Linked DNA regions of Homo sapiens. The protein of the gene in region 1 interacts with the protein of each later gene in a biochemical or structural test. Each region holds a gene or a part of one and is shown in the gene's direction. Other genes may lie near its edges.

Region 1 (5,269 bases):
TAACACATCCCTTTGTACTCTCATCACTGAATAATAATATCAGTGCCCAATATTTATATTAATCTTACTCCATTCTAGACACTGTCATAAGCATTGTTCATGGTTTATTTATCTCAACAACCTATAATGATGTACATTTTTAAAATTCAGAGTAAAAGATTTATTAAGGTTAAACATCCATTACAGTCACACAGCTAATAAATCACATAGTCTGGATTTAATCCAGTGACTCCAAAACAGGATCTCAAACACCTTCTTGTGCTACTTCATATTAGACTGTGCGGCATTTCTTGCATGCCTATGGTTTATTTGTAAAGGGGTGCAAGAAAGATTGTCTTCAGTTCATGTTTTGTGTTGATAGCAGTATTTATCTAAATTTTATATCATAAGTCTATTCAGGCACAGTGTAGTGATAGAGAATTTACCCAATTATCTAAGTACCTCTTCCACTGAGGGCAAAACAAGTTGCTGAGGTGGTGGTAGTGGTGGTTTTATTGTGTTCGCTTTTTTTTTTTTTTTTTTTTTTTGAGGTGGAGTCTCAAGTCTCGCTCTGTCACCCAGGTGGAGTGCAGTGGCATGATCTTGGCTCACTGCAAGCTCCGCCTCCCAGGTTCACGCCATTCTTCTGCCTCAGCCTCCTGAGTAGCTGGGACTACAGGCGCCTGCCACCACGCCCAGCTATTTTTTTGTATTTTTAGTAGAGACAGGGTTTCACCATGTTAGCCAGGATGGTCTTGATCTCCTGACCTCGTGATCCACCCGCCTCGGCCTCCCAAAGTGGTGGGATTACAGTCGCTTTGTTTTTTAAACCCTCAGTTATTCAGCTTGTTTGTCCTATCAAAATTAGTGTGTTTCATGAGATAATTGCTCAATTCTCCATTTCTTTTTGGTACAAGTAGTCTCCATAGAAATCATGAGGTGATAAGGTAAACACTTGGTGTTGCTGCTGCTGATTATTTTTATTAGTTTGAATGTTTTATAAAAAGCCATTTTCCACAAGGGATTGGAGGTATCCTTGCTTATAGAAATTCCAAAAGGAAGATGCCTTTCAAAAAAGTCTTGAAGAGTAAAATGTATTCCTAAAGATGATTATAGCATTTTATTTAAACATTTCCATAAAACACCCCCCATGCCCACCCCCAGTGTTCCCTAGGCACAGTAACCTTGGAAGTTGGAAGAATCAAAGCTGGTCCATTCCATTCAGAGAGGAGGCCATCTCAAAGCAGCCAGGTGGGTAGCTGTGGAGTTCATCAGGGCGATGCAATCGGCATGCCAAGAGGACACATAGATGGCCCTGACTGTGGGTCTGTGTACAAGGTCTGGTCCCCTGGCAGCGTGGGATAGTGACTGAGGTGCAGAGTTTGAGACAGAGAAGAACAAGGAATCAGAATAGCCAGGTAAACAAGGTGTGGCTGTTGAGTAGTTTGTAAGTCATTCTAAGGAAATTGATTTCAAGCATTCTTTTTTGACATGATTCATTTTCCATAATCTCAAAAGGTAACTACCTAATTGTAAAGCCTACCAAGATAACAAATTTTTTATTATTTTATTTATTTTATTTATTTATTTATTTATTTTGAGACAGAGTCTCGCTCTGTCACCCAGGCTGGAGTGCAGTGGCACAATCTCAGCTCACTGCAACCTTCGCCTCCCGGGCGAAGTAGATTCTTCTGTCTCTACTTCCCGAGTAGCTGGGACTACAGGCGTGCACCACCATGCCTGGCTAATTTTTGTATTTTTATTAGAGATGGGGTTTCGCCATGTCAGCCAGGCTGGTCTCAAACGCCTGACCTCGTGATCCACCCGCCTCAGCCTCCCAAAGTGTTGGGATTACAGGCATGAGCCACCGTACCTGGCCCCAAGATAACATATTTTAAAAATATTTTATAGCAACATCAATCAATATTCAACTGAAAAGTCCCATATAAGTGAACTATAGATACTCAGCACCATGTATAAAAATATGATGTTAAATATTTCAAGACTCTTGACAAGACCTCTTGACCTTCTCCTCAGTGTTGTCTACTGATGATGGAAACCCATTTTCATCAGTCTGTCCTTAAAGACCCCATACTAACTTTCTAAATTACTACCATGAGTTTCCTATTAGCTGGCCCTAATTCTACAGTTTTTGTTTAAGTCCTAGTCTTCCTACAACATCAGTTTAAATTTAAAGAAGATTAGTTTGAATGAGATTATGACTATCCACTAAAATTTTAGGTAGATTGGAATCAATTTCATCTACCCTTTTAGCTTCAATTTATTTATGTCACTAGACACATTCTCTGTTTAAAAGAAAAAAAATCAGTAGGAACTGTGTTTAAATTGCTCATCAAATTATCAAATGCCACTGTTGCTTAACAGGTATCTGTCTCTAGATTAAATTCTGAAATAAGTGGTATTTAGGGAGTATGTTACTTGCAAAACCTTCTGAAATAATTGTTGTATATTTGTAGGTGAGTGAAGGCAGCCTGTCATCTTTCACTTTTCCACTCTCTGGATCCAGTACATCTGAGTCACTGGAAAGTAGCTCAAAGAAGAATGCATGTAAGATTGGTTCAGTATTTTAAACATGGTTTGAATTTGGCTGTCAACACTGATTTTTTTGTCTTGTTTACCTCTGAGCTTTCTTTTCCCCCAAATCATCCCATATCCAAATATAGGTACAAAAACACGTGTTAGCAAAAAGTCTGAACAACATGAAGTTCTGCCTATGGCAGCTTTTCCCATTTGATGTTTACCCTACAAGATACACTAAACATTATAATCAGGATTCTGTAATTTTTTTTTCTTACTAAGCAGATTGGTGTTTTTGATTTTATTCCTTTTCTGTGTTTAATGTAACACCAGTAAATCAGAAGATGCCATTAAGTGAAGCCTTCTTTTTCCATGAAGATTGCAAAAATTTGAGAAAATTAATGTGATCCTCCTGTGTTTTAATTACGTGAAATCATGCTGCAGAGGGATTTTTGGCTTGGTGCATTGGTTGAGAGTTGTTCAAATTGAAGAAACTAACAATATGGCAATCTCTGTTTGCAGTATGACTAATATTCTAGAAATTTAGGCACTTAAATTTGTGAATTTTTTTAATGCATCCATGACTTTATTCCTCTCAGCCGTGCACATGTGCCTTTCTATGCAAAACACATTCTGCCCTTGACTCATTCAAAGTGGATTACATAGTTATATAATCAACACTTAAAATGAGAAGGAAGAATGGGATGGTATACACGTTTTTCCAACTGGAAAAATAAATAGTTCTGTGTAAGACAGATCTAATCATGTGTACTAGCAGCTTTGAGCACCCCCTTAAAAAAAGAAACCTAGGTTATCATTTAGTCCCATCCAGCTTTAGATATTTTAACGAACATAAAAAGTGAATGAACATAAAATAACCCTATTTTATCTTTTTTGCCTTTACAGTGGCATCTGAAATACAGGGATTAAGAACAGTCGAAATGAAAAAGGTAACTTGGGGAGAGAAAACAATATAAACCCTGGCGTTTTAAGAGACATCTTCATATGTGTTTTCTTGTTAACTTTCTTACGGTTTTAAAGTATTCATCTCAAAAAGTATGTATTCTTACATATTACATGTGAAATAACATAATGTAGTCCTTAATGAATTTCCTGATCACAGCACCTCATTTGAAAAATCGTTGTTTGCATGCTCTGTTTTGCTGAAAATAGCATAAAATTGACCCCACACAAAATAATACCATGCCTCTCACTTCTTATAAGTAAACCTTTCTCTTCAACAGATACTTATTAGTTCTGAAACAGATTCCCTTGACAGCCATGCACAAGAGACAAAGTAAAAGCAGCTGTGATTTATTGAGCTTTTACTATTGTTCTGAGCACTCTTATAGACACTTCATGTCATCATCATGTCATTTAATATTCACTGCAGCCCTCTGTGAGAGGCACTGTTGTCTCCATTTTGTAAATGAAGATCTAATGATTTATTGAGTGGAGTGGACTTATTCCAAGTTCCAGCATTTGCAAGTATGACTTCGTGGCTTTGAACACAGGACTCTGATTCCAAAAGTGTGGTCTTTTCACTTCATGAGTTTACCTGCTTTTCATCAGTTCCACAACATGATTTTCATTTAGCATGTCTTGATTTATTTTACTTCCTGAACAGATGCTTATTTTCCTAAGCCACGCTAAGCACCTGTGTCAAGTAAAGTAATGCAGTTTTCTTGCACTTCTTCATTTTCCCCCTCACACTTAGAAAATCAGAGTTGACTATAGATATCATGCCAAAGAATAAACAAAAGGTCAATGAAAAATATCACTTTGACCAAAATTTTATATCTGTTCCATGGCAGGGCCCTACTGACTCACTGGGAATCAGCATCGCTGGAGGAGTAGGCAGCCCACTTGGTGATGTGCCTATATTTATTGCAATGATGCACCCAACTGGAGTTGCAGCACAGACCCAAAAACTCAGAGTGAGTCGTACTATCAACCCTAGAAGCCCTAGCAAAATGTGCAGAAGTGTTTTTATAAACCTTTGAACCTGGCTACCTGTTGCAAGGCAGTTTTAAATATCTATATTTACTTTTAAATCATCTAATCCAACCACAGCAAGGCTTGCTTGGAATAAAAGATAAAGAATATTAAAAGAAAGGAGAAAATGCAGATTTGCAGTTAAATAGGAAGATTTATAGTTGTTTCCTAATACATATTTTTATATGTTGAAATTCTGTGGAACAAGCTAAAAGAGAACAGAAAGTATTTTCAGAACACCAGTATGAAGTGAAATTTTTATCTTATATATTTGATTGGTTTAAACGCCGATTTAACTCTGTTAAATTGAAAAGTATTACTTATTTGCATTCACTGATAATTTTGCAGAAGTTTAATATAAATATGACTTACAATGTTATAAAACTATATGCAACTTGCCTCAAAGCTGAGGGATTATCCAAATTGTGGAGCATTGCAATGGAATTTATGCCAACTGCCCAGCTCTAAAAATTACATGAATATTCCATTAACGCAACTCAGTCTCTCTAAAGCAAAATCTCTATGGTTTCATACCTCAAATAGGTCTCAGAACATAACCACATTTTAGTTTAAATAGTCTTTAGGCTGGGAATGGTTCAGCCTCGTTTGATATCCAAATTTATGGCTGACACTTAAAACCTGATTGTATACATAGCACAGGGTCAGTAAACTTCTGGAAGGACAGATACTGAATATTTTAGGCTTTGTGGGACCTGTGAGTCTCTGTTGCAACTACTCAACTCTGCGCTGTGAAAGC
Region 2 (4,484 bases), on another chromosome or scaffold:
CTGCAAGAGGCCAGCCGAATGCTGGGCCCTCTGACCCCCCAGAGCCAGGGAGCCCTCCCGTTGAGGGGAAACAAGCTGCCTGTGGCCATGCAGCTGGTCAGTGCCCCAACCAGGAACAGAGCTCCCCTGGGCACACCAGGCTTGTGCCACCCACTCTAGAGGTCATGAAATGGCTCCTCCTTAAAAAGAGAGGGGTGTCAGATCCAGCCCAGTCTGCAGTGGTCAGGTGGGCTGTGTGACTAGGGCTGGTGGGGATGGGGCTTCTGTCCCAGAGCTCCTGCTGCTTCAAAGACCCTGGTGCCCTCTTTTCTGTGCCTGTGTCTGGGGCTCTGGGGCTGAAAACCCATGAGCAGGGGCTGGGTCACGTGAGCTGAGTTTCCTATGGGGGCTGAGCAAAGAGTGTTTGTCTCCTGCCTGGTGACCTGTGACCAGGCTGCTTCCAGAGAAACCCAGCACCCCTACTCTGGGCTGATGGCTCCAGTCAAGCAGAGAGCCCTCTTGACCACCAGGCCTGCAGCTCCCTCCCCCTCCCCCTTACCACCCCCAACCTGCACACACACAGCCCAGCAGGTCGGCCCTCCTCTAGGAAGCCCTCCCTAATTGACAATGCCCAGCTCTGCCTGGTCCCCTGGGTGGCGTAGAGATGTGGAGCCCTCTCTCAGAGGCTGGGAGAGGCACTGGCAATGGACCCCCTGGCCCCCAGGTGGTGGTGAACGCCCTCCTAGGCGCCATCCCCTCCATCATGAATGTGCTGCTTGTCTGCCTCATCTTCTGGCTGATCTTCAGCATCATGGGTGTCAACCTGTTTGCCGGCAAGTTCTACTACTGCATCAACACCACCACCTCTGAGAGGTTCGACATCTCCGAGGTCAACAACAAGTCTGAGTGCGAGAGCCTCATGCACACAGGCCAGGTCCGCTGGCTCAATGTCAAGGTCAACTACGACAACGTGGGTCTGGGCTACCTCTCCCTCCTGCAGGTGGTGAGTGTGACCCACCACCCCTGCCGGGAACCTGGATGGAGGTGCCCCCCACCCCGGTCCTCTCGTTGTACCCAACCCCAGTGTCACTCCTGGTTAGGGGACCGCCCACCCTGCTTCCAATGCTGTGGGATCCCCAGGCAGTGTCTAGACCTCTCTGGTCTTTATTTGATGCTAGCCCAGTGGGGCTCTGGCAGGCGGCCTCTGGCAGGGGAGGACCAGGTTGGGTGGGGGAGGGAAACTCATGGATGATGAAAGCAGGGAGCAGCCCCCCGGCTCACTCCCCAACCACACTCTCTCAGGCCACCTTCAAGGGTTGGATGGACATCATGTATGCAGCCGTGGACTCCCGGGAGGTGAGTCGGGGTCGCTGAGATGTGGCTGGTGAGCGAGCCAGGGAAGAGGACTCAAGACAGGAGGGAGACTTGGCAGCACGTTCTGTCCCCGAGACTTGGCAGCCCTGGGGGTGGATGGGTCCTGCCCTCAGGGCTGTGGGGGGCAGGGAGAAGCCAGCGTGCAAACCCACGCCGTCCCACCCTGTGGCTCCCACAGAAGGAGGAGCAGCCGCAGTACGAGGTGAACCTCTACATGTACCTCTACTTTGTCATCTTCATCATCTTTGGCTCCTTCTTCACCCTCAACCTCTTCATTGGCGTCATCATTGACAACTTCAACCAGCAGAAGAAGAAGATGAGTATCAGCCCAGCCCCTCGGGCCCTCCCGGTGCTGGGCCTCCCTCCTGCCTCCTTTGTCCACTCTCCATTGCACAAACCCACAAACGCTGCCTGAGCACCTACCAGGTTGTTGGTTCAGGCAGCTAGCTTGGGTCCCAGTCCCACCAGGCCACCTTGAACAAGTGGCTTGGCCTCCATGAACCTCGGTGTCCTTATCTGTAAAATGAGACTGCTGGGCCAGGCACGGTGGCTCATGCTTGTAATCCCAGCACTTTGGGAGGCCGAGGCGGGCGGATCACAAGGTCAGGAGTTCGAGACCACCCTGGCTAACGTGGTAAAACCCTGTCTATACTAAAAATACAAAAAAAATTAAAAAAAGAAATTAGCCAGGCGTGGTGGCAGGCATCTGTAATCCCAGCTACTCAGGAGGCTGAGGCAGGAGAATCGCTTAAACCCAGGAGATGGAGGTTGCAGTGGGCCAAGATCGCGCCACTGCACTCCAGCCTGGTGACAGAGCGAGACTCCATCTCAACAACAAAAAAAAAGACGAGGCTGCTACAACCTGCCTTGTGGGTTACTCTAGGGCTCAGCGAGATGTTGATGAAAAGTAGCCAGAAACAGGCTGCAAGACAGCATTGATCCCCACTCCCCTTCCCTCCCTTCTCCTCGGTCCCGCATTCTCCCCTTGTCCCTCCATCTCTGACCCTCCCGCTTCCTCCAGGCTGATCAACAGGGGCGGGGGCTGCCTTAAAGGTGAGGTGCCCCACTGAGGTGGGGGTGGTCCTGGAGGCAGGAAGGGGAACTGCACCTCAACCTGACAAGCCCTATCCCACTATACTTAGGGGGGAAAGACATCTTTATGACGGAGGAACAGAAGAAATACTATAACGCCATGAAGAAGCTTGGCTCCAAGAAGCCTCAGAAGCCAATTCCCCGGCCCCAGGTACAGACCTCTGGGCCCCCTGTCCTGTGTGTGCTGCCAGGCTCCTGCCTAGGGGACTGATGGGGGTAAAAGGTTTCCTGCCTTCCACCCACCAGGCTGTGTCCCTGGGTGAGGTTAGGCCCACCCCAGGGGCAGGGGACTTGGTCTACCTGCAGGGAGGGACGCCTCTTTGTAGTGCCACAGAGACACCATATGCACAGAGGCTGTCCATGAAACTCTAGTGAGTGCTTTACCCTCACTTGGTCCCACGAAGCTCCTCAGTGCCCACCTACCTCCCACCTGGGACCCCAGTGGCCCCTGGGGCAAGGGCTCCCACAAGTGGAAGGAGGAGGATGTCCAGACACCCTACCCAGGAGCAATGACTTTGGAAGAAAGGGGAGGAGCATCTGGGGGATCTTGAAGGGAGGACCATGAACCCCATAAAATGACCTGGTCCCAGACCTGTCATGATCTGATGGGTCACCCCTCCTCCCCTGGCTGACTCCACCACAACCCCCAACACCTCCTTTCTCTCTCTCTCTCTCTCTCTCTCTGTCATCTCTGTCATCTCTGTCATGCTGTGGTGCCATCCTGTGCCTCCTGCCTGTCCATGTCCTGTCTGGGCCTGGCCACCCCAACTCCTCCACATCCACTCCCACCCATGCTGCAGAACAAGATCCAGGGCATGGTGTATGACCTCGTGACGAAGCAGGCCTTCGACATCACCATCATGATCCTCATCTGCCTCAACATGGTCACCATGATGGTGGAGACAGACAACCAGAGCCAGCTCAAGGTGGACATCCTGTACAACATCAACATGATCTTCATCATCATCTTCACAGGGGAGTGCGTGCTCAAGATGCTCGCCCTGCGCCAGTACTACTTCACCGTTGGCTGGAACATCTTTGACTTCGTGGTCGTCATCCTGTCCATTGTGGGTGAGCGGGGCGGGCTGGACCGGCAGGGCAGCACTGAGCTGAGGCACTCGGGAAGACCCATCCTCACACGGACACACCTGCCCCTGCACCCTCACACGCTCACCCAGACACATGCCTGTGCGTGCCTGCCATTCACTCTCAATGCACAAAGGCACATGGTGTGCACACAGGCAGATCGTCACCCGCGCACACATGGATGCACCTCAGGACACACAACTGACCAGAAGACGTGCACTCAGGTGCCCACATACTGAGCGAAAAGTGTAAAAGATGGTTCCATGTCTGTGTGCACTGAGAAGTGCACAGTCATGCGTGTGCTTATGATAGAAAGTAGCTGCCATTTATTATCAACTGTGCTGTGCGCTTGACAGGTGTTATCTCACCTGTTGTTCATAACAATGTCATGATCAGGAACTGTTGTTCCCATTTTACAGGTAAGGAAATTGAGGCACAAACAAGTGAAGTGGAGACCCAGAGTCACGCAGCTGTTCTGTCTCCCTCTCTCTCTGTCTCTCTCTCTCTGTCTCTTTCACACACACACACACACACACACACACACACACACACCAGTGGCATTTGCAAACAGCCTTGGGAATGGGCCTTACACTCCCCCACTTCAGGGTATCCCACCTCCAGTTCCATCAAGACAAAGCTGCAGCCCCTGGCCCCAAGACCCGTGGGAGAGCCCAGCCTCACCTGTCAGTCATCTGGGCTGTGCTCTGAGACTTGAGCAGAGCACACCAGGCCGGGCCCCCTGAGCCCCGCATGCTCCCCACACCCTGTGCCGGCCCCCCTCCCCAGTGGCAGCGTCCTCACTAGCTTCTCCCCGCAGGCCTTGCCCTCTCTGACCTGATCCAGAAGTACTTCGTGTCACCCACGCTGTTCCGTGTGATCCGCCTGGCGCGGATTGGGCGTGTCCTGCGGCTGATCCGCGGGGCCAAGGGCATCCGGACGCTGCTGTTCGCCCT
Region 3 (4,484 bases), on another chromosome or scaffold:
CCTTCGTGGCAGGGAGAGGCAACCTCTCTCCACAGCCCAGGCACTCTCCCAGGTGTGAGCAGCTGTGCCCTACTGGTTGCTTATTTGTGTACTACTGTGATCCTGGGAGTGCTGAGTAGCCGTCTTTAGGTTGGGGATGCCCTGGACCCTCAGAGAGACTCAAGGCTTGACTCCCATGCCTCCTGCTGCCTCTGCTCATATCCCTACTGGGCACTGATTCTGAGTCCCCGTCCACAGCACTGCCTGCAGCCCCCTTCAACATCACCGTGACAAAGCTTTCCAGCAGCAACGCTAGTGTGGCCTGGATGCCAGGTGCTGATGGCCGAGCTCTGCTACAGTCCTGTACAGTTCAGGTAGGCTCTCCGGGCCGGGCCATGCTCGTTCTGGCTGCATGGCCAGCACTTTGTTGACAGGGATATCACACTCACTAGCCAGCTCCTGGGGGCTTGGTCTGCAGCTCTTTTCAGGCTCTGCTCCTTAGCAGGAAGAACACAGGCCACTGTCTCTTATCATGGGGTGCTCTGGCAACTAAGTGACTTTGCAGATTGGCTCAAACTCATGCATTCATAAGGTTGGAAAGCAGATCACTAGAACAGATTTGGGGTACCTGGAAGGTTTTTCTTTCTTTCTTTTTTTTTTTGAGACAGGGTCTCACTGTTGGCCAGGCTGGAGTGCAGTGGTGCCATCTCGGCTCACTGCAACCTCCACCTCCTGGGTTCAAGTGATTCTCCTGCCTCAGCCTCCCCAGCAGCTAGGATTAGGATTACAGTCATGCACCACCACGCCCAGCTAACTTTTTTTTTTTTTTTTTGTATTTTTAGTAGAGACTAGTAGTTCACCATATTAGCCAGCCTGATCTCAAACTCCTGACTTCAAGTGATCTACCTGCCTCAGCCTCCCAAAGTGCTGGTATTACAGGCATGAACCAGCACACCCAGACGAGTTTTTCTTACTTAGGTGAAAGCTCAAACCTTTGCTGATACTCACCCTATCATGCTCCACCTTACCCCCCAACCCCCACTCAAGCCAAAGAGAACAAGATGACCAGAAGGGGCCCTAAGCCTTGGAGAGTGGAAAAACTGTGTAAGGTGATACTAAAAACAAGAGGCAATGCAGGCTTGCTCATTTTCATCCGTTTACTCAAAGGCCATTTAATGAGTACCTTTCAAAACTGTTCTGGGCAGTTCCCCTGGGCAGGAGGGGCCCCTGCTCTGGGCTCCACCATTTAGAGAACCCTACTGAGGTTGGGCACAGTGGCTTATGCCTGTAATCCCAGCACTTTGGGAGGTGGAGACGGGAGGATTGCTTGAGCCTGGGGGTTCAAGACCAGCCTGGGCAACATGGCAAAACCCTTTCTCTACAAAAAATACAAAAATTATCCAGGCACAGTGGCATGCGCCTGTACTTCTAACTATTCAGGAGGCTAGAGTGGGAGGATGACTTGAGCCTGAGAAGTCAAGCCTGCGGTGAGCCGAGATCATGCCACTGCACTCCAGCCTGAGTGAGTGACAGGGCAAGATCCTGTCTCTATTAAAAAAAAAAAAAAAAAAAAAAAAAAAAAGAGGATCCTACTCTGGCCCTCCTTTGGCCACACCCCTTTCCCCGGGGCAAAGAGCCTACAGGGCCAAGAGGATATGCCCATCCAGATGGCAAGGACCCCCTCACTGCCACACTATACTATAGCTATTCAGGATCTCTTGCCCTAATGGTTCTGAGTCTGCTTCTGGGGTCTGTGTGGGCCTTTTCCCTGTTCCATCTTCCCAAGGATGGACCGCAGTGTGATATGACCACCTCTAAGCCCAAGGGGCAGCCATTCGTGAGGGGGATGGGAATGGAGCTTGGATATGCAGTCAGCATTGTCCACGCCTGTGCACATGAGGCCCCTCATGGTGCAGACCTTGGCTTCAGGCCAGCTCTTCCAGTGCCTCCTCATTCTGACTCGGGACTCCAGGGATTTGGAGAGTTACAAATGCAAACCTGATCTCCCAGGTTGTTTTGAAGGTTTATTGGTCAAAATATTAAGAGAGAAACTATTTAATAGTTTGTTAGCTGATTTATAATGTTTAAATATTTAGACATATAGTACGTGGATCTCTTTGTACTCTTGCCCTGGGCCCCCAAAATGTAAGATGAAGGGCTGGTTCATAGTGCCCTAGGCTCCCAGTTTTCTCTGAGCTTCAGAAGCTCTAGAACTTTGGAGTGGCATGTAAACAGGCACAGTAAGTGGTAAGTATACCCTAAGAGTTTCGTACCAAGTACAAAAGGACAAGAGTTTTCTGGAGTGGTTGAGAAAGGCTTTCACCAAGAAAGTGATATTTGCACTGAGTCTTAAAGGATGAGTAGGCCTTTGCTAGGAAGAGCAGGTCATTCCAAGTGAAAGGAACAGCATTTGCAAAGGTATGAAGATGTGGAACCCTGTGTATTATTGGGGTGGGGGCAGATGGGAGGGCGTGGGTTGCAAGTGTTTGCTGATAGAGGAAGCATTCATTCAAGCACCCATAACTATACCCATCCCATCTTCCATCTCTCACAGGCTCTCCCCTACATCATTAGTTTTCTGCTTTTCTGTAGGTGACACAGGCCCCAGGAGGCTGGGAAGTCCTGGCTGTTGTGGTCCCTGTGCCCCCCTTTACCTGCCTGCTCCGGGACCTGGTGCCTGCCACCAACTACAGCCTCAGGGTGCGCTGTGCCAATGCCTTGGGGCCCTCTCCCTATGCTGACTGGGTGCCCTTTCAGACCAAGGGTCTAGGTAAGGGATGCATAGAGCAGAGCGGGTGGGCAGGGCTGGAGCCGGGAAGGGGGCCGTGTTGGCTGGAGTTCTGAATGGTGCTGGTAGAGATGGAGGTTCAGGCATCATTCGGCAAACATTTACTGCATATAACTACATACCACCTTGTAAGTAGTTCTTGTAGGTGGAACAGATAAGCAAACTGGAAAAGATCAGATAATGTGGTTGATAAAGAGTGTCCCCAGGTGGTTAAGGAAACCCCCCCTAAAAAGGTCTGAAGGATAAAGATCTGAAGGATCTGGGATCTGAACGATAAAGAAGAAGCCATGTAAATATCTGGGGGAAAATCACTGCCGGAAGAAGGCACAGCAAGTGCAAAGACCCTATGACAGGAACTTGCTTGGCAATTGCAAAGAGGCTGGCATAGCTGTGAGAGGGGAGTGGTAAGGGGTGAGGCAGAAAGGCAGTAACCATGGTGATGAAGAGCAACACTGCCGAGCTGGGGTGCTGCCTGTCCTGCCCATTGCTTACCCCTCCCCCAGCACAGTGGGTGAGAGCAGTCAGAGCTGGGAGGTGAACCCTTCCCCAGTTTGTGCCTCTCAGAGCTGTTTAGTTCTTGGGAGTTGATTCCAAAGGTCTGCATGGAATTATGATGGTGGGAAGGGCAGGGGTCTTAGCAATCTTCTCTCTTTGGCTGCAGCCCCAGCCAGCGCTCCCCAAAACCTCCATGCCATCCGCACAGATTCAGGCCTCATCTTGGAGTGGGAAGAAGTGATCCCCGAGGCCCCTTTGGAAGGCCCCCTGGGACCCTACAAACTGTCCTGGGTTCAAGACAATGGAACCCAGGTAAGACAGAACCCTCCCCTCTCTCCACTCTCCTGGAGTATAAGCCTTCAGGGTTCTAAGGCCTTTAAGAATTTCAAAATGATTGTCTTTGGTGGGCCTGGGTCTCCCGCAGCCCCAGGGAATCCTTTCCTCCTCACCCTCCTCTGCAAGCTCCACTTCTCAAAGGATTATGTCTCCTGTTAGGGTTGCATCCTGTGTGCACTTTGTAAATAAAGCAGGAAGCACATTCCTGCTTGAGCTGGGGGAGGGCACAGATAAGGCTTTGTCCCCAGCTCAGTTCGCTCCCATCCCCCACCTGTGCATTCCGGGACTGAGCCTTGTTTGTGTTCTGGAGAGGCCCCTGCAGCCGGGAACAGGAATGTGATTACTCCCAGAAGGTTGTGTTCCTGCAGCCCCTGAACCCACAGTGCCCCTATACTCCCATGTTCCCAGCTGGACCTTTTTCTGTCCTCAGGCCCCAGCTGGAGGCCTTCTCCCCAGGCTCACTATGGGGTGGGGGCTTTTCCTGGCTGCAGGATGAGCTGACAGTGGAGGGGACCAGGGCCAATTTGACAGGCTGGGATCCCCAAAAGGACCTGATCGTACGTGTGTGCGTCTCCAATGCAGTTGGCTGTGGACCCTGGAGTCAGCCACTGGTGGTCTCTTCTCATGACCGTGCAGGTGAGGCTTGTAGGTGGAGAGGGGCAGAGGCTCAGGGGATCAAGGTTTTCAAGGGCAACCTAGACTGATGGGAGGAGCCTAGTAGCATCTCCCCTCCTAGTAGACCCACAGACAGAGTGAAGAAGTTGAGGCCAGGGCTGTTTAAACTATCTTGGCTGGGCATGGTGGCTCATGCCTGTAATCCCAACATTTTGGGAGGTTGAGGGATCGCTTGAGGCCGGCAGTTTGAGACCAGCTCTGGCAACATAGC
Region 4 (4,960 bases), about 20 Mb from region 1:
AAAACTTTTCAATAATTGTAACACACGTAGCGAGCTGCTTCCCCAGTATTTAAAAGGAGCAGTATGCTGCTCCTTTTAAACAAAACCCTTTTTTCAGACCATCAGTGGATCTGGTAAATAAATAAACAACAATTTCCCAGGTACCTTTGTATCCCAAAGCTCATCCATCTCTGGTCAATTACAGGCAGATGCCTATCTACTTGGGGGGGCTGCCAGGAAAATTATTATTGTCCTCATACAAGTGGCCAAAGAACTGGCACCTCACTTTTACCCTTTGCATTTTCTCCTTTCTTCCCTCCTAAATGATTCTATGCCTAAAGGTGCAGCAGCTGTCTAATGGTCATGAGTACAAAAGATACAAAATAGATGATGGAGAGGAAAATGAGAAGGATCTGCTTCCTGATCCACCCCTTTGAAAGTGAGAAAGTTGGGAGTTGACCTTGGCTCCTCCCTTCATCTCACTTCACTGTGCTCCAAGACACTTCACTCAACCCTTAAATACCCTCAGATCTGCTTCCTTCCAACTCCTCTACCAGCCCGACATTGTTAAGGCCACATCATGTCTTGCCCGGCTTACTGAACTTCTCAGCTTACTGAACAAGACTCCCGGCTTCCAGACTTACCAGCTCCAACCTATGCTCTCACCTGCCGCCCCTTTCAGTCAAACTGGAATGTTTTTGTATTGATCTTTGCTTAAAATACATCAAGCGTTCTTCATTGCCTAGTGGATAAAAAGTCCTTAGTCTCACAGCCTTTATGATTTGTTTGGCTCCTGTCATACATGATGAAGACACTAATTATGATGACAAATATATATACATATACATGTGTACGTGTGTGCATGTGTGTGTAATTTTTGTACACAGACTATGTACCAAGCATTGTGCTAGGAACTTTACGTTTATTTAATCCTCACAATGTTTCCTCATATATTTGGTATTAATCTCATTTTACAGATAGGACGACTGATTCTCAGAGAGGTTAAGTCACTTGCCCAGGAATATACAGCTAGTTTAACTGGGGAAGGCCTGGATGTGAAAATTCTTTCCAGTAAATCAGTGTCTTGACATGAAAGCATGTACCGCTCATCAACCTGTTCTCCACCGCCCTCCTCTATCCTAAATGGGCAGCCCTGTTGAAGAATCACAGCCAAAGCCAGTCTTGCCCCCCGGGGCCAGAGGAATCCATCTGCCCCTGCCTACCAGAGCGGGAGGAACGCAGGCTCTCAATGCCTGCTTCAGCAAGGGAGGAGAGAATCGCCCAGAGCTGAGCGGCGTCGTAGGGTGGTGGTCCTGACCGGTCAAGGCCCCTTCTCCTCGTGAACTGGGGGCCAGGGAGCCCTTCTCCCTGTCCCCCCGGCACCACAGCGCTGTAGAAGTGAAATCCCGGCTCCAAGGTCACCCTCTCCCGAGCCTGGAGCTGGAAAGCCACGGGGACTCCGGGGACTCCCCCAAGGCCCGGACTAGCCTGGCACCCACCCCTCACCACTAACCCACTCCGCCTGGGCGCTGGTTCTGTGCGCTCCCGCGGCGCAGTCGCTCCGCTGCAAGAGCGCTTTCGCGCGCCGCCACCGCCCAGAGCCGGGACCAAAGCAGTCCTCGGGCACCGGCTCCCCGAGGGACACACACCCCCCCGCGCCCCGAGTCGAGGGGTTGAGAGAAGGGCGGTCGGGGAGCCCCTGGGCCTGCCGTCAGTCACCCGGATTTGTAACTGGAGAAGGGTGCGGGTCCCGGAGGGACATCTCCAGCTGGCACCTAACTCCTCGGATCCCGGACTGGGAGCCCGAGCTCGGATATTGCAACGGCTGCCCCGTGGGCAAACCGACCCTGGTTTCCGACTCCGGCCACTGGCAGCCTCGCGCCCCAGACCCTTCCCGGGCACGGAAGCGGGTCAGGTCGCCCTGCTCAGCCTCCGGAACGGCGGCGGCACAAACCCCGGCCGCTCCCAGCAGCCCCGACGAGACCCCGGGCAGCGCCTGCCGCCGGGTGGCCTCCCTCTGGGGCTGACCCCCTCGCGCCCCCGCGCGTCTGTCTGCGTTTCTGAGCCTGCTCTGACAGTGATGTAACAAGGCCAGGCTCGCGCCGCGTCCCCTCTTTCCCAGACTCAGTGCTCCCTCCTCCTCCCGCGCCCCGCGCTCTGCGCGCTGAGCTGGCGCCGGGCTCCGCTTGCACAGCACCGGGACCGACGGGCACTGCTGGGAGAGCCGCTCTCCCAGGTTCCACCTCCCCGATGCAGAGTCCGTGGGGGAAACCAGGCTTTCCTCCCAGAACCAAGGGAGCGAGCCGAGGGGGCAGCTGCTGTGGGGGCTTCTGAGGAGACAGCCTGGCTTCTTTCCCTACTTCCTGGAGAGGGCAGGAAACCTCAGGTACCTCGTTGACCCCAGCCGGAGCGTGTTGATATGAGAGAGAGACGGAGGTTGCAATAGTGAGAGGAAGAGAGGGAGGGCACAAGAAAGGGAGGGAGGGAGAGGGGACGGAGAGAAAGAGTAGAAATAGAAACAGGGAGAGATTGCAAGAGAAACGCAGAGAGAGAGATAGAGAGATTGCAAGAGAGATACAGAGACAGAGATCAAGACTGAAAGTCAAGAAGCAAGTCGGAGACAAAGGGCAAGAGAAAGACAAGAGTTGATGGGTGGGAGCTTGACTTGGATTTTTTTTTAACGCACTGTGGTTTCATCTCTGACAGAATAGAGGAACGCTGCTCCCTGGTCAGCAAGCAGCCCCCAACCTGGATGGAGTGAAACATGCGGCCTGATGACATTAACCCGAGGACTGGGCTGGTGGTGGCCCTGGTCAGTGTCTTCCTCGTCTTTGGTTTCATGTTCACCGTCTCTGGGATGAAAGGGGAGACTTTGGGAAACATCCCCCTCCTGGCCATCGGGCCAGCCATCTGCCTACCAGGCATCGCAGCCATTGCCCTGGCCAGGAAAACCGAGGGATGCACCAAGTGGCCAGAGAACGAGCTGCTGTGGGTCCGCAAATTGCCCTGCTTCCGGAAACCCAAAGACAAGGAGGTGGTAGAGCTGCTGAGGACCCCTTCAGACCTAGAATCCGGCAAGGGGAGCTCAGATGAGCTGGCTAAGAAGGCGGGCCTCAGGGGGAAGCCTCCCCCACAAAGCCAGGGTGAGGTGTCCGTGGCCAGCTCCATCAACAGCCCCACACCCACGGAGGAAGGAGAATGCCAGAGCCTCGTCCAGAATGGGCATCAGGAGGAGACGTCCAGATACCTGGACGGCTACTGCCCCTCGGGCAGTTCCCTCACCTACAGTGCCTTGGACGTCAAGTGCTCAGCAAGGGACAGATCTGAGTGCCCTGAGCCTGAGGATAGCATCTTCTTTGTGCCCCAGGACAGTATCATCGTTTGCTCCTACAAGCAGAACAGCCCGTATGACAGATACTGTTGTTATATCAATCAGATACAAGGCAGGTGGGACCACGAGACCATCGTCTAATCTCTGCCTACAAAGGTGGCTGGATTGATAGAATATGACTAAGCCCAGCTCCCCGTGGAAGCAAATTGCTCTGCTTGGAGAGCCTTCACACTGTTAGAAATTGACCTGGTATGTGATGGGTGTGATAACCTCTGGTACCCGAGAGTCATGTAAATAGGCATGTTGGGGACACATTTTAGGGAAGGGCGATGAGGGTTAAGGACACTGGAAGAGGCAGTGGGTAGGAAAGGAAGCTACTCCAGTTGCTTCTTAACAATTTACACAATGTTAAATGTTTTGTAAAATAACCCAAAAAGTGCTATCCAGAACCAGCTGAGAGCAAGATAAATCTAGAGTGGGCTGCAGATGTGAGGCATCAAATGATGCATGAGCTGACCACAGGGAAACTGAGCTGCTTTATGTTTGAATAAGTTGAAAATAAAATTAATGATCCGTTATATAAAGTAATTTTTGCCTGGTTAAAAGCTTATCACACTTGGTATTTGCTGAAAGAAAAAAAAATCAAGATACAAGAGTTAAACCCTCCTTAGATGGGATGGTTTTTGGGAAAAGGGTAGTTAAAGAGAGTTGGATTATGTAACTGAGTCTTGTGGCATTATTGTCTGACAAGATCATGGTCTCTAATAAAGTAAAATAAGTGTGAGCAGCTATGTGAAAAGTTAACATTTTTAGATGGCTATGTTACTTCTTAAACTCTTCGTTTAAATCCATTTATTGCATCTTTATCTGAAATGGGTTTTTTCTAAACATTTACTATCATTCATGTATTATTTCCTTACCAGGTGCAACATTATTTGAAATGATACTTTCATAGATTGGAATTTGTTTTCATCAAGACAAAATGAATTTTACATATATATCCAAGTCTTTAACATTGGCAGACATGTACTGATAATTACCATTCCTACATACCTTTTAAAATCTGAAAACTATAAAGTCTACACATTAGCCTTGAACATTGCACATAATTTGTATGAAATGCAATGGTTAAACCTTTGGAAGTGTCATTATTTGTACATTTGTTCAACTCCTCTCACAGACTGTAAATGCCAGTGAAACAAGAACTCATCTACTAAATTTAACTGAAGCCTAGATTTTATTAAGCTCACCTGATCAGTGAACATTACATGATAAAAGTCTCTTTATTTCATACATTTTTGCTGCTGAGGAAAACAACAAATCACAATGATATCCTAAAATGTGCTTTCTATTTCACTTGCTCAACTGCAATAGATAAGAAGGCTATCAAGCAGAATGCCATTTGATCCCCGGTGAAGAAAAATATGAATTATATATAGGAATGGTGATAGAGTTCATCTTGAAGATCAGAAGTATTTTGTATCCTTCAAAGAATGATCATTTTAAGTGATCATATAGTCTTAGTCACTTTCTCCCAAAAGGGGAATTGAGGACAAAAATTTGGGCATATATGTTTTGTGTATTTCAATTCCAACTCTGCAATTCTTTCTTAAGTATAGCAATTGTTCTGTCTTAAGAATCATGGTATTT

What was found.
Region 2: the proteins of MPDZ (region 1) and SCN4A interact in a test that uses a peptide from one of them, tested with the Homo sapiens proteins (one large-scale study listed by IntAct).
Region 3: the proteins of MPDZ (region 1) and TYRO3 interact in a test that uses a peptide from one of them, tested with the Homo sapiens proteins (one large-scale study listed by IntAct).
Region 4: the proteins of MPDZ (region 1) and TMEM215 interact in a test that uses a peptide from one of them, tested with the Homo sapiens proteins (one large-scale study listed by IntAct).

The regions. Positions count from the first base shown.
Region 1 is NC_000009.12:13,111,209-13,116,477, reverse strand, and holds part of MPDZ (multiple PDZ domain protein), read left to right. Parts: intron 1-1,143; coding exon 1,144-1,230; intron 1,231-2,456; coding exon 2,457-2,547; intron 2,548-3,423; coding exon 3,424-3,467; intron 3,468-4,331; coding exon 4,332-4,454; intron 4,455-5,269. UniProt on the Homo sapiens protein: Member of the NMDAR signaling complex that may play a role in control of AMPAR potentiation and synaptic plasticity in excitatory synapses. Promotes clustering of HT2RC at the cell surface.
Region 2 is NC_000017.11:63,941,858-63,946,341, reverse strand, and holds part of SCN4A (sodium channel protein type 4 subunit alpha), read left to right. Parts: intron 1-703; coding exon 704-982; intron 983-1,281; coding exon 1,282-1,335; intron 1,336-1,531; coding exon 1,532-1,669; intron 1,670-2,491; coding exon 2,492-2,596; intron 2,597-3,245; coding exon 3,246-3,516; intron 3,517-4,348; coding exon 4,349-4,484. UniProt on the Homo sapiens protein: Pore-forming subunit of Nav1.4, a voltage-gated sodium (Nav) channel that directly mediates the depolarizing phase of action potentials in excitable membranes.
Region 3 is NC_000015.10:41,564,789-41,569,272, forward strand, and holds part of TYRO3 (tyrosine-protein kinase receptor TYRO3 isoform 1 precursor), read left to right. Parts: intron 1-237; coding exon 238-353; intron 354-2,571; coding exon 2,572-2,749; intron 2,750-3,428; coding exon 3,429-3,574; intron 3,575-4,089; coding exon 4,090-4,234; intron 4,235-4,484. UniProt on the Homo sapiens protein: Receptor tyrosine kinase that transduces signals from the extracellular matrix into the cytoplasm by binding to several ligands including TULP1 or GAS6. Regulates many physiological processes including cell survival, migration and differentiation.
Region 4 is NC_000009.12:32,781,441-32,786,400, forward strand, and holds the start of TMEM215 (transmembrane protein 215), read left to right. Parts: upstream 1-2,099; 5' UTR 2,100-2,365; intron 2,366-2,685; 5' UTR 2,686-2,743; coding exon 2,744-3,451; 3' UTR 3,452-4,960.